3 linked regions of the Homo sapiens genome follow. The protein of the gene in region 1 interacts with the protein of each later gene in a pairwise test. Each region holds a gene or a part of one and is shown on either strand. Other genes may lie near its edges.

Region 1 (6,286 bases):
GTGTCATCGTACTTGGGAAACCCAAGGATGGATTCTTGGCAAGTCGACTCTTGGAGCTTTCCCTGTGCTTGGTCCTGTGCTCAGACATGGGAAAATTAGAGGAGTGTCATCTGTGCAATCACTGAATTCATAATCTTGGTGAGGAAAGGAGACTACACACAGGGAATAATGCTAAGTATTACAGATTTCAGGGCAGAAAGAGATCAAGGTGGGCTGCAATATTCAGAAAAGTCTTCCTGGAAAAGTTGAATACTTAGAAAGCAGCTCCTAGAAGTAGACTCTGCTGAGATGGACGGAGTCCTTTGTAGGTCCCAACTGGGTGTGTGTGTGGGGTCTGTCTCTCCATGGCTGACAGTGCACATGTGGATTCCAGGGCTCAGGATGCTGTTGCTGGGAGCTGTTCTACTGCTATTAGCTCTGCCCGGTCATGACCAGGAAACCACGACTCAAGGGCCCGGAGTCCTGCTTCCCCTGCCCAAGGGGGCCTGCACAGGTTGGATGGCGGGCATCCCAGGGCATCCGGGCCATAATGGGGCCCCAGGCCGTGATGGCAGAGATGGCACCCCTGGTGAGAAGGGTGAGAAAGGAGATCCAGGTAAGAATGTTTCTGGCCTCTTTCATCACAGACCTCCTACACTGATATAAACTATATGAAGGCATTCATTATTAACTAAGGCCTAGACACAGGGAGAAAGCAAAGCTTTTTTATGTTAACCATAAGCAACCTGAAGTGATTTGGGGTTGGTCTTCCAAGGATGAGTGTAGATGGTGCCTCTATAACCAAGACTTTGGCTTTGCTGCATCTGCAGCTCCTTTTCCATCCCCTTTCCCATCTTCACCCTCATCCCTATTCCCAGTACATTCATATTCTGATTCCTCTTTCTGTCTGCTTAACTTCCATTTCACCCAGTGGCATTCAACCACATTTACTGCACACCCCCTGAAAGGCTCAGTCCTGCCTTTGGGGAACTCTTGATCTAGGTAAGATGTCTAATGTGCAAGGCTCTGTTGGTGGTTACTACAAGAAAGTCTACTCTAAAAATGTCAAACTGAATGTGAACAAGTATTCAAAGTATGGAGCATAGAGAAAATATACTCACCGTGGACCTGATGAAGAATGAAGGCTTCAAGGAGGAGGCAGAGCTTCAGCTAGGCCTTGAATGATGGGTAGGCAGAATAGAGGAGGAGAGACATCCTAGATGGAGGGGGTAGAATTGCAAAACCAGGGTTGATGGTGCCAGCACATAAAGGGCTGGCAGGGTGGAGGGTCTATGATAGAGACCTATAGGAGATAAAGATAGAGTTGAAATTATGGGAGCCTCCATGTCTGTGGGAGATATAGAAGGAGGAGGTAACACCTCTCTCCTTTTGGGAGCTCTTATTGGTTTCTTGATCTATAAGTCAAGAAGGTTGTGAGTGGGAGCCACAGGGATGGTAATTTAGGCTGTAACCAACCTAGGCAGGAGTTCTGTTCTTTGTAGTCACTGAGGTCTTCTCATTCCTTAGGTCTTATTGGTCCTAAGGGAGACATCGGTGAAACCGGAGTACCCGGGGCTGAAGGTCCCCGAGGCTTTCCGGGAATCCAAGGCAGGAAAGGAGAACCTGGAGAAGGTGCCTATGTATACCGCTCAGCATTCAGTGTGGGATTGGAGACTTACGTTACTATCCCCAACATGCCCATTCGCTTTACCAAGATCTTCTACAATCAGCAAAACCACTATGATGGCTCCACTGGTAAATTCCACTGCAACATTCCTGGGCTGTACTACTTTGCCTACCACATCACAGTCTATATGAAGGATGTGAAGGTCAGCCTCTTCAAGAAGGACAAGGCTATGCTCTTCACCTATGATCAGTACCAGGAAAATAATGTGGACCAGGCCTCCGGCTCTGTGCTCCTGCATCTGGAGGTGGGCGACCAAGTCTGGCTCCAGGTGTATGGGGAAGGAGAGCGTAATGGACTCTATGCTGATAATGACAATGACTCCACCTTCACAGGCTTTCTTCTCTACCATGACACCAACTGATCACCACTAACTCAGAGCCTCCTCCAGGCCAAACAGCCCCAAAGTCAATTAAAGGCTTTCAGTACGGTTAGGAAGTTGATTATTATTTAGTTGGAGGCCTTTAGATATTATTCATTCATTTACTCATTCATTTATTCATTCATTCATCGAGTAACTTTAAAAAAATCATATGCTATGTTCCCAGTCCTGGGGAGCTTCACAAACATGACCAGATAACTGACTAGAAAGAAGTAGTTGACAGTGCTATTTTGTGCCCACTGTCTCTCCTGATGCTCATATCAATCCTATAAGGCACAGGGAACAAGCATTCTCCTGTTTTTACAGATTGTATCCTGAGGCTGAGAGAGTTAAGTGAATGTCTAAGGTCACACAGTATTAAGTGACAGTGCTAGAAATCAAACCCAGAGCTGTGGACTTTGTTCACTAGACTGTGCCCTTTTATAGAGGTACATGTTCTCTTTGGAGTGTTGGTAGGTGTCTGTTTCCCACCTCACCTGAGAGCCATTGAATTTGCCTTCCTCATGAATTAAAACCTCCCCCAAGCAGAGCTTCCTCAGAGAAAGTGGTTCTATGATGACGTCCTGTCTTGGAAGGACTACTACTCAATGGCCCCTGCACTACTCTACTTCCTCTTACCTATGTCCCTTCTCATGCCTTTCCCTCCAACGGGGAAAGCCAACTCCATCTCTAAGTGCCGAACTCATCCCTGTTCCTCAAGGCCACCTGGCCAGGAGCTTCTCTGATGTGATATCCACTTTTTTTTTTTTTGAGATGGAGTCTCACTCTGTCACCCAGGCTGGAGTACAGTGACACGACCTCGGCTCACTGCAGCCTCCTTCTCCTGGGTCCAAGCAATTATTGTGCCTCAGCCTCCCGAGTAGCTGAGACTTCAGGTGCATTCCACCACACATGGCTAATTTTTGTATTTTTAGTAGAAATGGGGTTTCGTCATGTTGGCCAGGCTGGTCTCGAACTCCTGGCCTAGGTGATCCACCCGCCTCGACCTCCCAAAGTGCTGGGATTACAGGCATGAGCCACCATGCCCAGTCGATATCTCACTTTTTATTTTGCCATGGATGAGAGTCCTGGGTGTGAGGAACACCTCCCACCAGGCTAGAGGCAACTGCCCAGGAAGGACTGTGCTTCCGTCACCTCTAAATCCCTTGCAGATCCTTGATAAATGCCTCATGAAGACCAATCTCTTGAATCCCATATCTACCCAGAATTAACTCCATTCCAGTCTCTGCATGTAATCAGTTTTATCCACAGAAACATTTTCATTTTAGGAAATCCCTGGTTTTAAGTATCAATCCTTGTTCAGCTGGACAATATGAATCTTTTCCACTGAAGTTAGGGATGACTGTGATTTTCAGAACACGTCCAGAATTTTTCATCAAGAAGGTAGCTTGAGCCTGAAATGCAAAACCCATGGAGGAATTCTGAAGCCATTGTCTCCTTGAGTACCAACAGGGTCAGGGAAGACTGGGCCTCCTGAATTTATTATTGTTCTTTAAGAATTACAGGTTGAGGTAGTTGATGGTGGTAAACATTCTCTCAGGAGACAATAACTCCAGTGATGTTCTTCAAAGATTTTAGCAAAAACAGAGTAAATAGCATTCTCTATCAATATATAAATTTAAAAAACTATCTTTTTGCTTACAGTTTTAAATTCTGAACAATTCTCTCTTATATGTGTATTGCTAATCATTAAGGTATTATTTTTTCCACATATAAAGCTTTGTCTTTTTGTTGTTGTTGTTGTTTTTAAGATGGAGTTTCCCTCTGTTGCCAGGCTAGAGTGCAGTGGCATGATCTCGGCTTACTGCAACCTTTGCCTCCCAGGTTCAAGCGATTCTTCTGCCTCAGCCTCCCGAGTAGCTGGGACCACAGGTGCCTACCACCATGCCAGGCTAATTTTTGTATTTTTAGTAAAGACAGGGTTTCACCATATTGGCCAGGCTGGTCTCGAACTCCTGACCTTGTGATCTGCCCGCCTCCATTTTTGTTGTTATTTTTTGAGAAAGATAGATATGAGGTTTAGAGAGGGATGAAGAGGTGAGAGTAAGCCTTGTGTTAGTCAGAACTCTGTGTTGTGAATGTCATTCACAACAGAAAACCCAAAATATTATGCAAACTACTGTAAGCAAGAAAAATAAAGGAAAAATGGAAACATTTATTCCTTTGCATAATAGAAATTACCAGAGTTGTTCTGTCTTTAGATAAGGTTTGAACCAAAGCTCAAAACAATCAAGACCCTTTTCTGTATGTCCTTCTGTTCTGCCTTCCGCAGTGTAGGCTTTACCCTCAGGTGCTACACAGTATAGTTCTAGGGTTTCCCTCCCGATATCAAAAAGACTGTGGCCTGCCCAGCTCTCGTATCCCCAAGCCACACCATCTGGCTAAATGGACATCATGTTTTCTGGTGATGCCCAAAGAGGAGAGAGGAAGCTCTCTTTCCCAGATGCCCCAGCAAGTGTAACCTTGCATCTCATTGCTCTGGCTGAGTTGTGTGCCTGTTTCTGACCAATCACTGAGTCAGGAGGATGAAATATTCATATTGACTTAATTGCAGCTTAAGTTAGGGGTATGTAGAGGTATTTTCCCTAAAGCAAAATTGGGACACTGTTATCAGAAATAGGAGAGTGGATGATAGATGCAAAATAATACCTGTCCACAACAAACTCTTAATGCTGTGTTTGAGCTTTCATGAGTTTCCCAGAGAGACATAGCTGGAAAATTCCTATTGATTTTCTCTAAAATTTCAACAAGTAGCTAAAGTCTGGCTATGCTCACAGTCTCACATCTGGTTGGGGTGGGCTCCTTACAGAACACGCTTTCACAGTTACCCTAAACTCTCTGGGGCAGGGTTATTCCTTTGTGGAACCAGAGGCACAGAGAGAGTCAACTGAGGCCAAAAGAGGCCTGAGAGAAACTGAGGTCAAGATTTCAGGATTAATGGTCCTGTGATGCTTTGAAGTACAATTGTGGATTTGTCCAATTCTCTTTAGTTCTGTCAGCTTTTGCTTCATATATTTTAGCGCTCTATTATTAGATATATACATGTTTAGTATTATGTCTTATTGGTGCATTTACTCTCTTATCATTATGTAATGTCCTTCTTTATCTGTGATAATTTTCTGTGTTCTGAAGTCTACTTTGTCTAAAAATAACATACGCACTCAACTTCCTTTTCTTTCTTCCTTCCTTTCTTTCTTCCTTCCTTTCTTTCTCTCTCTCTCTCTTTCCTTCCTTCCTTCCTCCTTTTCTTTCTCTCTCTCTCTCTCTCTCTTTTTTTGACAGACTCTCGTTCTGTGGCCCTGGCTGGAGTTCAGTGGTGTGATCTTGGCTCACTGCTACCTCTACCATGAGCAATTCTCCTGCCTCAGCCTCCCAAGTAGCTGGAACTACAGGCTCATGCCACTGCGCCCAGCTAATTTTTGTATTTTTCGTAGAGACGGGGTTTCACCACATTCGTCAGGTTGGTTTCAAACTCCTGACTTTGTGATCCACCCGCCTCGGCCTCCCAAAGTGCTGGGATTACAGGCATGAGCCATCACACCTGGTCAACTTTCTTTTGATTAGTGTTTTTGTGGTATATCTTTTTCCATCATGTTACTTTAAATATATCTATATTATTGTATTTAAAATGTGTTTCTTACAGACTGCATGTAGTTGGGTATAATTTTTATCCAGTCTAAAAATATCTGTCTTTTAATTGGTGTTTAGACAATTTATATTTAATAAAATTGTTGAATTTAAGATGGATGACTGTTTTATTTGTTTGCTGTTCACCACTTCTGTTTTATTCTCTTTCCAGAATTCTTTTGGATTGTTTAAATATTTCATAATATTTTATCTTAATTTATTTATTGGGTATTTGCCTATATCTCTTTGTGGTATTTTTTAGTGGTTGCTTGAGGGATTACAATGTACTTAACTTTTCACAGTGTGCATAAAGTTAATATTTTGCCACTTGCAGTAAACCGTAGAAGGCTTATAATCATATTAGTACCTCTATCCACTTTCTTTTATGTTGTAGTTGTCATATATATTACATCTATATACACTGAAACATTATAGGCAATGTTATGATTTTTGCATTCGTCAGTCATATATATATTTTAAAGAATTTAAGAGGAGAAAAATACATATTCAGATATTCATCATTTCCTTTGTTCTTTATTAATTTCTAATGTTCTGTGTTTCTCTCTGGTGTAATTTCTCCTCAACCTGAAAAACTTTATTGAGCATTTATTTTA
Region 2 (7,032 bases), on another chromosome or scaffold:
GAAAACCAACTATGCCTTCTTCACATGTGTGTATGTCTGTGTGATACTCGAGGCTGTGGGAGTACATATTAAAAAATATGCATGTGCAACTGCAGTTCTAAGAAAGGATTTATTACAGAATACAGGAAATACGTATGCAGGGATGCTGTGCAAGCTGCAAGGAGCGGTTTCCAAAATGGAGTTATTAAACACAGTAACAAAGGTTCCAAAGTAATTGTTCCACATTTCAAAAGCCAAACAAGCAACTGATGGCTGTACTGGTTTGCTAAAGATTCTTTGTTACTGGCCAGAATTACATTAATCTATCTTGGTAATACTGTTTTACGGTGATCAAAACATGTAAATGGTAGTTTAATATATCTTTAATCAAAATGAGAAAATCAATGATGGCTTACTAGTTTGATAGTCCCACAGGAGAGAAAATAATAAAATGTTGAGAACTATCACTTTAAAATATTGTATGAATATAACTGAGAAATATATCTTATTTGGTACACTAAATACCTGTCGTCTTAGTGAAGCTGCATCTACAACAGTCAGGTCATCTGACGTTCCTTCAATGGTTGTATCTATATTTGAAATGCCATACCTGCAGATAAGAGATAGAAATACAAATGAATAGTAAAGTAGAACTCAGAGTAAATGGCACGCCACATCATGCTTTGTGTAATGCTCAAAGTAGTATTCAGAAAATTGGTACTTAATAATATGAATTACTAAAATATTTTACTACCTGAATTTGTACTAATAAAGGAAAGAAAAAAGCTTAAAATGACAACTGTCTACAATATTGAAAAAGGGCACTAAAAACTGGAGAATGGGAAAAAAATCCTGACTAAAGAAACACATAGAAAATTCTCAAGCCAGAAGGATTGGCGATGCTAAAAAGGGTCCCTGGCTGAAAAGGTTTGAGAGCTGCCACTTAGGATAGAACAAAATATAATTCTTACACAAACTTATGTCCATATGTAAGCCCATAGGCACAGACTCACTAGCAGGGAACACAAAGTAGACTAACTCTAAAAAAAGAAAGACTCATCACCTCTTCTCACTGCCTCTTGTCTTGCCATTTTTATTCTTTACTTCTTGTCTTTTTATTTTTTTGAGACAGAGTTTCACTTTTGTTGCCCAGGCTGGAGTGCAATGGCACAATCTCGGCTCATTGCAACCTCCACCTCTGGGGTTCAAGTGATTCTCCTACCTCAGCCTCCCAAGTAGCTGGAATTACAGGCACCTGCCACCATGCCCGGCTAATTTTTGTACTTTTAGTAGAGATGGGGTTTCACCATTTTGGCCAGGCTGGTCTCAAAGTCCTGACCTCAGGTGATCCACCCACCTCAGCCTCCTAAATTGCTGGGATTACAGGCCTGAGCAACCACGCCTGGCCTATTCTTTACTTATTTCCAATTACTTATGCTCTACTGTGTTCTCCCGCAGAAACAATTATAAAATCTCCTGAATACATCTTACCACTACATTTAGCTCCAGAATTGGCCCAATAATGAATAAAATGCTGTGTATAAAATAATACTGAAAAACCATTAAGACAAAATCCAGAGAAAGCATATTAAAAAAGTACTTTTTGTTCCAATGTAGTTACTTCTAAAGCGGCACTAATTTCTAGGTGAATGACACTAAACCTCTGAAAAACAAAGACAAACGCCATTCCTCTTCTTTGCCTGGATTTCCACATTTTAAAATTTAGTTTAATTAATAGCTTCATTGAGATACAACTTATATAACCACATAATTCACCTCACATGTATTTTATACCCTAAATGGTTATTTTAGTAAAATGGCATAGTAAATTTTCTAAATGAGCAGAATATAAATAAACTAAATTAAAAGTTATTCCTGTGTAGTCCAGAGAATTGGCAAATGGATCATCTATTCTAATACCTATCCCAGCAAGTCCCCACTACAAAAAGTACATACCCACAAAAAGGGATATGAAGCAGAATTATACTTTTCATCCAGACATGTTAAAGACAAGTCTACTCAGAAAATCCTTTTGTTTTAAATATTGTTAAAAGTAATAAAAATACTTTAATAAAGTATGCAAAAAACCTTAAACAATAGATGGTGTGTACTGACTCTAGATAATCTACAACCATCTCCAAATATTCCTTCTATGGCTAAATTATCCTGCTTTCTCATTAACTGTCTCCTTATTTCATGAGAACACAGTAAACAACCTGGAGCAGTTAGGGTAATTATACCAGTTAGAGAAGTAAACTTCTAAGTTAGTAGATGCTGGAACTATGGGTTTACAAATGATTAGTGGAAAAAATAAAGGTAGAAGATTCCCTTTTCCTTCACTTCATCCTCAAAATAAAACTCTTCTCTTTCTCTGAGGCCACATAACAGAGGAATAATTAGGAAAAAAATCAAACAGAAGCAATTGTTAAAGGGATCTGAACTGAACATACAGAATGAAGTACAAATGAAAGCGATTACTCACAATTTATATCCTGAATTAACTAAGGTTTAGATATCTGAAATCTCGATTTGCAAAGAAATATAAGGATATGACAAAAGATTTTACCTATATACTTCAATTTAAAACAAAAATATGTTACTTTACATTGTGTTTTAAACAAAAACCGTATTTATTAGAACTAAAAAACTCTAATGCTAAGTTAGACCACTGGCTGAAAATACTCTGACAGAAAGATAAAAGATCACAAACTTAGAGAAAAATATAAGGGAAAACGACAATGAACTGAACTAAGATTGTAAAAAGAAACAAGTCAGCAGAGTGGTAAGGGATTACCACAGGCACGCTTTTCAATTCCTCCACCATGAATTCAATTTTAATGAGCAGCTAATGCTTCCCTTTTCTCTTGCTTCAATGAATGCACCAACTTCTAAGCACAGAAACGATGCTGCCAGTTTTAAATCTACTGCTACCGACAATATATTTCTGCTTAAATAAAACTGACTGAAAAAATTATACAGTAATAGCATCTGTGAATACCAACAAGTTTTTGATTTTTTCCAGACTATAGGAAAACTAAATGGGGATTTTGGCACTTAAGAACTGCATGTATTTGTATGTGCCATTCTGCCAGCCTCTGTGCGTGTCAGGAAGAAAGGAACGCTCAACCTACGCGTGTCTGAAAGTGTAAAAAGGGCAAAAATAAGAGAGAAGGCCTTAAATCAACAGATGATAAAAATGCTTAAAACTAAATTTCCTTTCTAAATATGTACCTTCCCAAACTGTGGAGTTGTTAATGCTGATTTCTCCCAATTTAAGATGAAGCCTTACAAACAAAGACAGGTTTGTTCACACACTAAAAGTAACATTCCAGATAATTAACAACTTAAAAGGAAATGCTGGGCACAATTCAGGCAACCATTAAAATGATGTACATAAAATAAGATTTAAGACTTTTTTCTGTTTTAGCATGTAAATTATTATAAACCACCTATAAACTATTAACACTACACTTAAATAAAATAGCTGTTCACATCATACCATAATTATTAAACATTTTCCCTCATACTAATTGGCCAAATGTCATGACTGATTATTCACTGTTCTTAGAGAGAAGCAAGATGTACTCATCGAGGAAAGCTGTAGAAACAAGTTCAGCTACAAACACAGGCATGGCTACGACATGCAACATGCCCTGCAACACACAAATTCCGCCAAGCATTTACCCTGGTAATTACGAAGTCTCAAAATTTACCTGACGTTGTCATGATGAGGATTAGAAGTGGCGGCAGCAGACCCACCACGCAACACAGGTCTAAGGCAGGTTTTTGCGGGAGAAGGCACAAGACAGAATCAGGAAACAGAGAAGTAATAAAATAAAAGCAAAAACAAGACAAATAAATGTCAAATAGGATTATATTGTATATTTCAATACAATATAATATCTCTCAACTACTTTAAAAAATCCTTGTCTCATGTGTCCTCCATTTTATCATTTTCATAAACTCAACATTACTATTGATCAAAGAAACAAAGGGAATCTATATTTACACGACAAAACAGCACCAACATATAAAATAATTTTCTTGGTGCTTTACTTTATGAAATTTAAGACAGAGGACAACTCTGCTTAAAAAGTGTAATTCCTTTCTTCCAGTTGGAAAAAAAAAATCACTAGCACCTTTAAAAGCATATCAGGACCTGGTTAGCTGCACCGGTATGACCACAGTTGCTCATCTGATATCAACAGCTCTATCTCAAAAACCGTATTCATAAATTTCAAGAAACTCCATTTCCCACACTTCCTTCCCTCCCACCTCATTAATTTTGAGTAGTGCCTGATGTCTCGTTGCAGCTGTGTCTCATTCAAACTCTCAGCTCTCCAGAGTGAAAATGCAAGCCTCCACTCTGAAGCTGAGATCAGGAGACGTGCTAGAGCACATTACAGGAAGGGCAATCCACAATTTGAGTCTGATCTTGAGACAGCCAGGAGTGACATACAGGGCTGCTGGAAATGAAGACTAAGGTGCAATGGGAAACTTGGTGGGGATTTCCACTCATTCTCAGTATATACTTTGGCGCTAGAGGACAGTTAGCTTTCTACTTTGATAAGCAGTAACCTTTCCAATACGTTTTATCTTTTAAAATCAGAAAACAAAAGCTTCTAAGTGTTCACTGGTCAATTCCCCCTAAAACAATCAGCAATATTTACTAAGCAGAGAAAGGAGACTGGAGTGTTGGATCCATATAAAGATTTGAAGAATTATTAAATCCTATTTTGGATATCTCATTCTCTAAGTAACTGATCTGGTTTTGCCTGAATTTAAGTATCAAGACAATAATTATATAATGGTAAATGTTTAATACCAAATGCACTAATTTTTTCTGTAAGTTGGCACAGCTGTGGAATTTTGACTACAATACAAATTATTTTCTGATAATTCAATTCATGTAAGAAAATTCTAATGTTTAACTTCTACATGTCTTAAAGGTACTACCAGTGCTTAAAGAAATTTCTGGAGCCTAGATGATAAGGGATTCAGAGACTTTTTGGGGGAACATGTTTGACTTTTATTTTACTGGCTAAAAAACATGGAGAAATCACATATGCTTAAGACAGGTCTTTAACTCATCTCATCCTACTAACATATTTACTCTGTGGCATTAGGAAACCTGTTATTTAACTACAATCTTAAATTGCACTAACATGAAAATGGTTAACTAGATGAAGCCATCACTGTGTGCTTCCTAAAGCTTTTTAAAATGCACACAGTATGTTCAAATGGGTCTGTCATATTCAACCTATTCCACCACAGAGATTTCCCTTTTATAACGCAGAGCCAGAAAATAATACAGTTACCTTTCACAACGTATTTCATTTTGTCTTCTCACACTGGCAATTGACACATATATTGTAAAAGTAAATTAGACAGGTATGTGGCAAAGTTAGAAACTTCATTCAAGTACCATTTTCTACGATAAGTATGATTTAATACATAAAATCTTCTCAACAGTATGTTTTGTAGAGTGGCAAAAGGGAAAGAAATCCAAGGCTACCACCAAGCTCCGCCATTAACTTGCGTACTGACATTTTTTGAGTAAATACACTCTGACGTAACAGAATATGTGTTTCTTTGCTATAAAAATGTAATCTGCTACAGAAAATAAAGTTTAATTGGGGATCAGGAATTATACACTTTTTTAAAGAGAAAAATTATAAATAACAAACGCTGTATCCACTGCAACTCTGGATTTCTAGGTCTTCCAAGCTGTATATTTATAGGGATACTTGCCAAAAATATAAATTATTCATACATTGGTTTCTTATTCTATGCACTCAAAGCTGGTACAATCTGTTAAGGAAAAACTGCATAAAAATAATCAAGCCCCTCGTAAAAATGAGAGCTAAGCATGACTCATCTATCAATATTTAAATAAGGTTCTTACACAGGAACTAAGTTTCTTTTTGAAGATGCGAATATTTTACATTGTAAAATGAGATACATAGCTCTAACAGATACAGGGAGAGACCGGCATTTTCTAACCAGTTAAGGACCAAATCATAATAGTATTTTAATTTCTGCTGCACCTGAGCAAATGACACACCTGGTGCTTTGGTAAATTTTCAGTGTATCAGTTCTCCAAATGCGTAACACTCACCTGTGTAAATAAACTTTTCTAACATGTACCTAGGATTTAACTTGGTTTTCACGTTGAGTTTGGTTTAGATCATCTACATTCTTGTAAGAAAAAAATATATGGTACACAAACCTTTTGACAGCGTCCTTTAAAATGTAAACTGAACACAGTTCTTATGTCAAGGAATTGTGAATCTGCATTACTTCATAGTGATAAAGCAAGCAGAAAGCTTTTTTCTTTTTCTGCCAAATAGTTCTAGTTTAAATTAACTACACCTAATGTGATGGCATATGACCAAAGATAAGGTATTGCATTAGCATAATAGCCAAGAGTAATAAAATAGAAAAGAAAAAATGATCTACAGAGCAAGGAACATAGAAGCACTTAAAATTTTATAAGCAGTATTATTTTATAATCATGCAAGTAGAACATTATCCAAATTTCACATTCCTATTTCTTATATCTGAAAAGTCATGCCAGATACTTCTCACAAAGGAAATAAAAACTGATTTGGCACTTAAAATTCTGATAAAATCTTGCTCAACACTGAGATCCTAAGTGAATACAACTTTAAAAAATCCTTTCAATACTGAAAGCGTCAATAAGACTGATGAGAATCTAACCCTCCAAGCTCCAAGGTAACAACTAATGCTACAGATCTAGGAGAAAAGCATTATTAATATAACTCCTTCATGAACTTTTAAAAACTTACTGAAATGAATGAGAAAAGAGAATTCCTTCCCAGAAAAGGGATTTTAGAGTTATCAATTCATCACAATGTAAAAAAGTGAAATAAAATTTCACTGAAAGTCCAAAAATATTTTTCATTATTAAAAAAATACAAAGTTTATACTAATACGATTTTTGATTTTATACATTTGACTCTGAGGCACAATTTTTTTTCCATTATGGAGGAAAAAATCCATATTTTTATAAGTTCCACATTATTGCAATGA
Region 3 (7,032 bases), about 74 Mb from region 1:
TGTTAGTTTATAAATGTTGATTATCTTTTTAAAGAACTAGCTTTTGATTTCCTTAATTTTTTGCATTGCTTGTTTCCTCTTTTATTGATTTCTGCTCTTATATTTATTATTGTGTTTTCTCTCTTTTGTTTCTTGCTTCTATGGGTGAATTTTACACATTTCTTCCTTTAAAATTAGCACTTAAAGGTATTACTTTTCCTAAAACCACTGTGTTAGCTGCTTATTTCAAATTTTGGCATGTTGTATTTTCATTATCATCCAGTGAAAACTTTAATTTCTTCATGAATTTCTTCTTTGAGCAAAGGGTTGCTTAGACGTGTGTTTGATTTCTAAATATTTGGTATTTTCTTAAAAATCTCATTGTAATTGATTTCTAATTCAATTCTGTTTTGGTTGGAGGACATCTTTTATATGACTTCAGTTTTTTTTAATGTTTTTGAGACTTGTGGCACAGAATGTGGCCAAACTCAGCGAATATACGATGTGCACTTGCAAAGAATGTATTCTGCAGATGCTGGGTTAGGGTACTAAAAATATGAATTAGGTCAGTGTGGTTGATAACTATATTAGTTGTTTATAACTATGTAATGAATTACCCCACAACTTAGCAGCAGATAAGAAATATGTATTTTGAAAGATAAAAATACATCTTAAGTTGATATTGATACTTTTCATTAAAATTTAGGACTGAGGATTTTTTTTTCCTTTTTTTTTTTTTCTTTGACGGAGTGTCACTCTGTCACCCAGGCTGGAGTGCAGTGGTGTGATCTCAGCTCACTGCAACCTCTGCCTCCCGGGTTCAAGCAATTCTCTGCATCAGCCTCCCAAGTAGCTGGGATTACAGGCATCTGCCACCACATCCGGCTAATTTTTGTATTAAACTTACTTATTTTACATCTATTATCTTCTTTCTTCCTCACTATAAAATTGAACAATACCAACATACAGACATACCTATCTCTCCACAACCTCACCCAACAGTGTATGTTGTCAAACTTTTGGATTTTGCCAGTTATAGATGAGAAATGGTATTTCCAAATACTTTTAATTTGGATTCCTCTTACCATGACTGATGTGAAATATATTTTCATATGACTAAGAGATATTTTTACTTCTTTTTCCATAAAATTTCTGTCCATATGTTTAGTCTGGTTTGCTATAGGTTTGGGTTGATCTTTATTTTTAATCCAGCTTCATCTAGCCACGTGCCAGGGAGCTGTGCAGGCCACTGTTCTAAGCCCATGAATTCTGACAATTGTCTCTTCCCGAACTTAACTATTCCCGTTCAGATCTAGAATTCATAGTGTCTGTGTCCAGATGCCTTTGTAATCCTGATTTTATGGACTTGCCATGCGATCTGCTTTTTTAAAAGTTTGTCTCTCAGTGCTCTTGCAATAACATGGCTTAAACTCACTTCAGTTTGGGTTAATTTGGGTTGTGTATCTATCCTAGCATATTTCTTAGGCTCTAACCATTGATTTCTACTCATAGCAGTAAGACTTACTTGCACTAAGATTCATAATTGGGTAACTGAAGCAGCTTACTAGCCAGGTAGTCTTGGTCAAATTGCTTAATCACTTAATCTACATTTCTTTATCTGTAAAATGAAAATAATCATATCTGCTAGTTATAGAGAGATGGAAATAAAGAACATAGGCAAATTACCCAAAATCTATTCCTGTTATACTCATTCCATAAATTATCTTAAAAGAACAGTTTGCTAAAGAAAATGGCAGCTGAAAGGGGCAGTAGATTAAAACTTTTTCCAGAAAAACACTGAGCATTAAATTTTACTCTAAAAGGTGTCTCTTTGCCAGTCAGATACACTCACTATAGATAAGCTACGAGTGTATCTTTTCCTTGTGAACACATTCCAGGAGCTTTGTGCCTTGCACAGTTAGAGCCTGCCGATATCCAGCCTCAACTCCAATTACACATCCAGGTTTTCTCACTTCATGGCAATACTAAACTATTTATAACTCTTGTAAATTTTTATTTGGCTTTGTACCTCCTTTAAATGCCATTATTTTTGTTTGCATTTTCCCTTCTGTCTTCCTGGAAAACTCCTCATGTACTTAGATCCAGCTAAAAAATTACTTATTATAGGAAAGCATGCCTAATCTCTTACTCCTGTTTTCCTGGAATTTAAACATCTCTTCTTTTAAACTTCTATACATCACAGGCAACTTCGATCATTGCACTGAAAACTTTGCATTATAATTGTTTCCCTAGCTACTGCCTCTCCTGGATCTTAAGCTCTTGGAAAAAAGGGGATATTGTTTATTATGATATCTCTGTGCCTAGCAGAGTACTTTGCCAATAATTGCTGCTTAAAAGATGTGTACTACCAATTCTCACTAAGAGCTTGCCTTGCAGAAATGTGAACTTAATAGGCCATTGTCTATATCACGGGTCCCCAACCCTGGGGCTGCAGACTGGTACCAGTCCTTGGCCTATTAGGGATTGGGCCGCACAGCAGGGGGTGAGCGGCAGGTGAGTGAGAATTGCGGCCTGAGCTCCACCTCTTGTCAGATCAGTTGGAGGCATTAGATGCTCACAGGAGCATGAACCCTATTGTGAACTGTGCATGCCAGGAATCTAGGCTGTGCATTCCTTATGAGAATTGAACTAATGCCTGATGATCTGAGGTGTAACAGTTTCATCCGAGAACTATCGTGCTCCCTTCCTCCTTGTCCGTGGTGGAAAAATTATCTTCCTCGAAATGGGTCCCTGGTGCCAAAAAGGTTGGGGACCGTTTTCCCATCATAGATTCTATGATGTGACTTCAACAATGCTTAGGAAAATCCTTTTATTCCATACCAGCAGCCAATCAATAGTCCCCACTAAACTTTTTTTACCTCCTCATTGGTGCTTGAAAAGCCTAGTAAAATAATTTCTTCCACACTCAGAGATAGACTAAAAGCCTGGAAGAAGACTTGAATATAAAGCAAGAGGGGGGTGATGGGCACTCTGGGCTTAAAGCAGGACTATGCCAGAGTCAGGAAGAGAAAGTCAAAAGTTTATACTGGGACAAATTTTGCCAAGACTTTTGCTTGGCTGTCATAATTTAGATATTCATTGGCAACTGCAATACAAAAATAGTCTGAAGAATGTGAAAAAATATGATTTTAACTAGGAGTCAGATCTATTAATGCATATTTCTCTCTCTACCCCCTATGTCTTTTTCAAAATTCAGAAGCGGAGGGTGCTGCTCAACCAAACAACTCATTAATGCTGCAAACTAGCAAGGAGAATCATGCTTTAGGTAATGTGCATCTTTTAACAATAATTCTAGTAGGGGAGTGCTTGATGTCCATATAGGTTTTACATTTTTGGATCTTGAATTGTCTCATGCATTATCTGTATTATCTAAATGATATTATATTTAAGAGTGTTAATAAATTTTTCATTCTGAAATTATTTCTATGCTTATTTAGTACCTATTTTAAGAATGGGATCACTAAACAAAACCAATGGCCTATTCAAAAAATTTGTTATTCAACTTTTGAAACCTAGATTATTATCCCAGAGCACTTTTTAATAAGCAGATCTTAATAGGTGTTAATGATTTATTTTCTATATCCTCTCTCAACCCTATTTTCTCCAAAATTTTTGTTTGCCATTTTAATTAACATTGAAACAGAAAAGAAAAGTTAACAGACTTTATTTTTTTAGAGAAGTTTTAGGATCGTAGCACAATTGAGTGGAAAGTACAGAAATTTCCCCTATGACCTCTGCCCCCACATGTGCAAAGCCTCCCCATTATCAACATACCTGACTAGAGTGGTACATTTGTTTCAATTAATGAACCTACATTGAAACATCATCATTATCACATTATCAAAGTCCAAAGTTTGCATTAGAGGTCACTTTTAGGGTTGAATATGAATGTTTTCAGGCAAATGCATAATGACATGTCTCCACCATGATAATATTTTATAGAGTAATTTCACTGACCTAAAAATCGTCTCTATTCTACCTATTCATCCTTCCCTGCCCACTAACCCCAGGCAATCCTGGTATACTGTCTCCATAGTTTTGTCTTTTCCAGAGTGTCATATAATTGGAACGTTACAGTATGCAGCATTTTCAGACTGGCTTTTTTCACTTAATAATATGCATTTAAGTGTTCCCCCATGACTTTCCATGTCTTAATGGCTCTTTTTTTTTAGTACTGAATAATATTCCATTGTTTGACTATACCACAGTTTATTCATTTGCCTGGTAAAAGACATCTTGGCTGCTTCCAAGTTTTGGCAATTAGGAAAAAAGCTGCAATTAACACCCATGCACGGGTTTTTGTATGGATGTAAGTTTTCAACTCTTAGGGTAAATACCAAAAAGCATGATTGTTGGATTGCATGGTAGGAGATTGCTTAGTTTTGTAAGAAACTGCCAAACTGTCTTTCAAAGTAGATGTACCACTTTGCATTCCTGCTACCAATTAAGTTCCTGTTGCTCCACTCCTCGCCTTTGGTGTGTAGTGGTTCTCATTGTTGTTTTAATTTGCCTTTCTTTGATGACATATGATGTAGAGCATCTTTTCATATGCTTATTTTCCATAAATATGTACATTTTCCATATATATCTTCTTTGGTAAAGTGCCTGTTAAGATTTTTGACCTGTTTTTTAATCTGGTTGTTTGCTTGCATATTGCTGAGTTTTAAGGTTCCTTTGTGTGTTTTGGATAACAGTCTTTTATCGGATATGTCTTTTGAAAATACAGTTGGCCCTCTGTATCCATGGGTTTCAAATCTGTGGATCCAACCAACCATGGATTGGAAATATTTGGAAAAAATTCCACAAAGTTCCAAAAAGCAAAACTTGAATTTGCCTTACTACATTGAGTCCACAGGATGTAGTGATATACAGGCATTGTATTAGGTATTATAAGTAATCTAGAGACGATTTAAAAAATACAGGTGGTTATATGCAAATACTAAGCCATTTTATACAAGGGATATGAGCATCTGTGGATTTTGGTATCCATGGGGTGATGGAATCCCTCAGAGGCAACAAGGGATGACTGTATTTTTTTTTTAGTATGTGGCTTATCTTTTCGTTCTCCTTTTTTTTTTTTTTTTTTTTGAGACGGAGTCTCGCTTTGTCGCCCAGGCTGGAGTGCAGTGGCGCGATCTTGGCTCACTGCAAGCTCCGCCTCCCGGGTTCACGCCATTCTTCTGCCTCAGCCTCCGGAGTAGAGTAGCTGGGACTACAGGCGCCAGCTACCACGCCCTGCTAATTTTTGTATTTTTAGTAGAGACGGGGTTTCACCGTGTTAGCCAAGATGGTCTCGATTTCCTGACCTCGTGATCCGCCCGCCTCGGCCTTCCAAAGTGCTGTGATTACAGGCGTGAGCCACTGCTCTTAGAAATTTTTCACAGAGTAGAAATTTTTAATTTTACTGAAGTCCAGTTTATAGATTCTTTATTTTATGGATTGTGCCTTTACTGTGGTAGCTAAAATGTCACTGCCAAACCAAAGATCATTTGGACTTTCTCTTATGTTACCTTCTAGGAGTGTTTTTAGTTTTGCATTTTTATATTTAGGACACTGATCCATTTTGAGTTTATTTTTGTGAAAGGTGTGAGGTCTGTATCTAGATTTAATTTATTTTTGCATCTGGATGTCCAGTCGTTCCAACACCATTTGTTCAAAAGACTCCAATGTATTGCCTTTGCTAATTTCCAAATACAATATTTATGTGAGCCTATTTCTGGGCTCTCTATTTGGTTTCATTTACTTATTTAGCTCTTCTTTTGCTAATAAAATACTGACTTGATTATTGTAGCTTTATAGTAAATCTTGAAGTCGAATAGTGTCAGGCCTCAAACTTTGTTCTTCTTCAATAATGTGTTGACTATTCTGAGTCTTTTGCCTCTCTAGATAAACTTAAAAATCAGTTTGTTTATGTCCATAAAATAACTTGCTGAGATTTTGGTTGGGATTGTGTTGAATACATAGATCAAGTTGGGAAAAACTGGGACTTTGGTAATATTCATTCACCCTATCTGTGAACATGAGGTCTCACTCCATTTACTTAGATTTTCTTTGATTCTTTTCCATCAGAGTTTTATAGTTTTCCTCATATAGATGTTGCACATATTTTGTTAGACTTATACCTAAGTATTTCATTTTTGGGGATGCTAATATAAATGGTATTGTGTTTTTAACTTCAAATTCCACTTGTTCACTGGTGACTTATTGGAAATTGTCATACAAACATTGACTTTTGTATGTTAACCTTGAATTAATATCTTCCATCACATCAATGAGTCAATACAATACAAAAAATTGACTTTTGTATGTTAACCTTGTATTTTGCAACCTTGCTGCAATTTCTTATTAGTTCTAGGAGTTTTTTTGGTCAATTCTTTCAGATGCTTTACATAGATAATTATGTCATGTATGAACAAAGACAGTTTTATTTCTTCGTTACTGATCTTGATCCCTTTTATTTATTTTTTCTTGTCTTATTGCATTAGTTAGAAATTCCAGTGGTGAATTAGTTAGAAAAGCATTAGTTAGAAAAGCAGTGGTGAAAAGAGTCATCTTGCTTTGCTCCTGATGCTTTGCTTTCTCACCATTAATTATGATGCTAGCTGTAGAGTTTTTTGTAGATGTTTTTTAAGTTGAGAAATTTCTCTTTATCCCAGTTTACTGAGAGTTTTTAAAAAATCATAAATGAATGTTAAATTTTGTCAAATGCTTTTTATGTATCTATGGAAATGATCATATTATTTAGCTTATTGATGTGATGGAAGATATTAATTCATTTTTGAATTTTGAGCCAGGCTTGCATATCTGGAATAAACCCCAGTTGTTCATGGAATATAATTCTTTTACTACATTCTTGAATTTGATTTACTAATATTTTACTGAGGATTTAAAAATGTATGTTTATGAGAGATATTGGTCTGTGGTTTTCTTTTTTGTAATGTTTTTGTCTGGTTTGGTTATTAGGATAATGCTAACCTGATAGAATGAGTTAGGAAGCATTCCCTCTGCTTCTGTTTCTGAAAGAGATTAAGG

Evidence for each region. Proteins that work in one complex are often made in the same cells at the same time.
Region 2: the proteins of ADIPOQ (region 1) and MFF interact in binary tests that used the Homo sapiens proteins (3 or more experiments, as listed by UniProt).
Region 3: the proteins of ADIPOQ (region 1) and CD200R1 interact in binary tests that used the Homo sapiens proteins (3 or more experiments, as listed by UniProt).

The regions. Positions count from the first base shown.
Region 1 is NC_000003.12:186,852,678-186,858,963, forward strand, and holds the end of ADIPOQ (adiponectin precursor), read left to right. Parts: exon of another isoform or gene 1-373; 5' UTR 374-381; coding exon 382-595; intron 596-1,100; exon of another isoform or gene 1,101-1,195; intron 1,196-1,455; exon of another isoform or gene 1,456-1,506; coding exon 1,507-2,027; 3' UTR 2,028-5,786; downstream 5,787-6,286. UniProt on the Homo sapiens protein: Important adipokine involved in the control of fat metabolism and insulin sensitivity, with direct anti-diabetic, anti-atherogenic and anti-inflammatory activities.
Region 2 is NC_000002.12:227,349,234-227,356,265, reverse strand, and holds part of MFF (mitochondrial fission factor), read right to left. Parts: intron 3,753-7,032; coding exon 3,693-3,752; intron 590-3,692; coding exon 505-589; intron 1-504. UniProt on the Homo sapiens protein: Plays a role in mitochondrial and peroxisomal fission. Promotes the recruitment and association of the fission mediator dynamin-related protein 1 (DNM1L) to the mitochondrial surface.
Region 3 is NC_000003.12:112,944,089-112,951,120, reverse strand, and holds part of CD200R1 (cell surface glycoprotein CD200 receptor 1 isoform a precursor), read left to right. Parts: intron 1-3,196; coding exon 3,197-3,265; intron 3,266-7,032. UniProt on the Homo sapiens protein: Inhibitory receptor for the CD200/OX2 cell surface glycoprotein. Limits inflammation by inhibiting the expression of pro-inflammatory molecules including TNF-alpha, interferons, and inducible nitric oxide synthase (iNOS) in response to selected stimuli.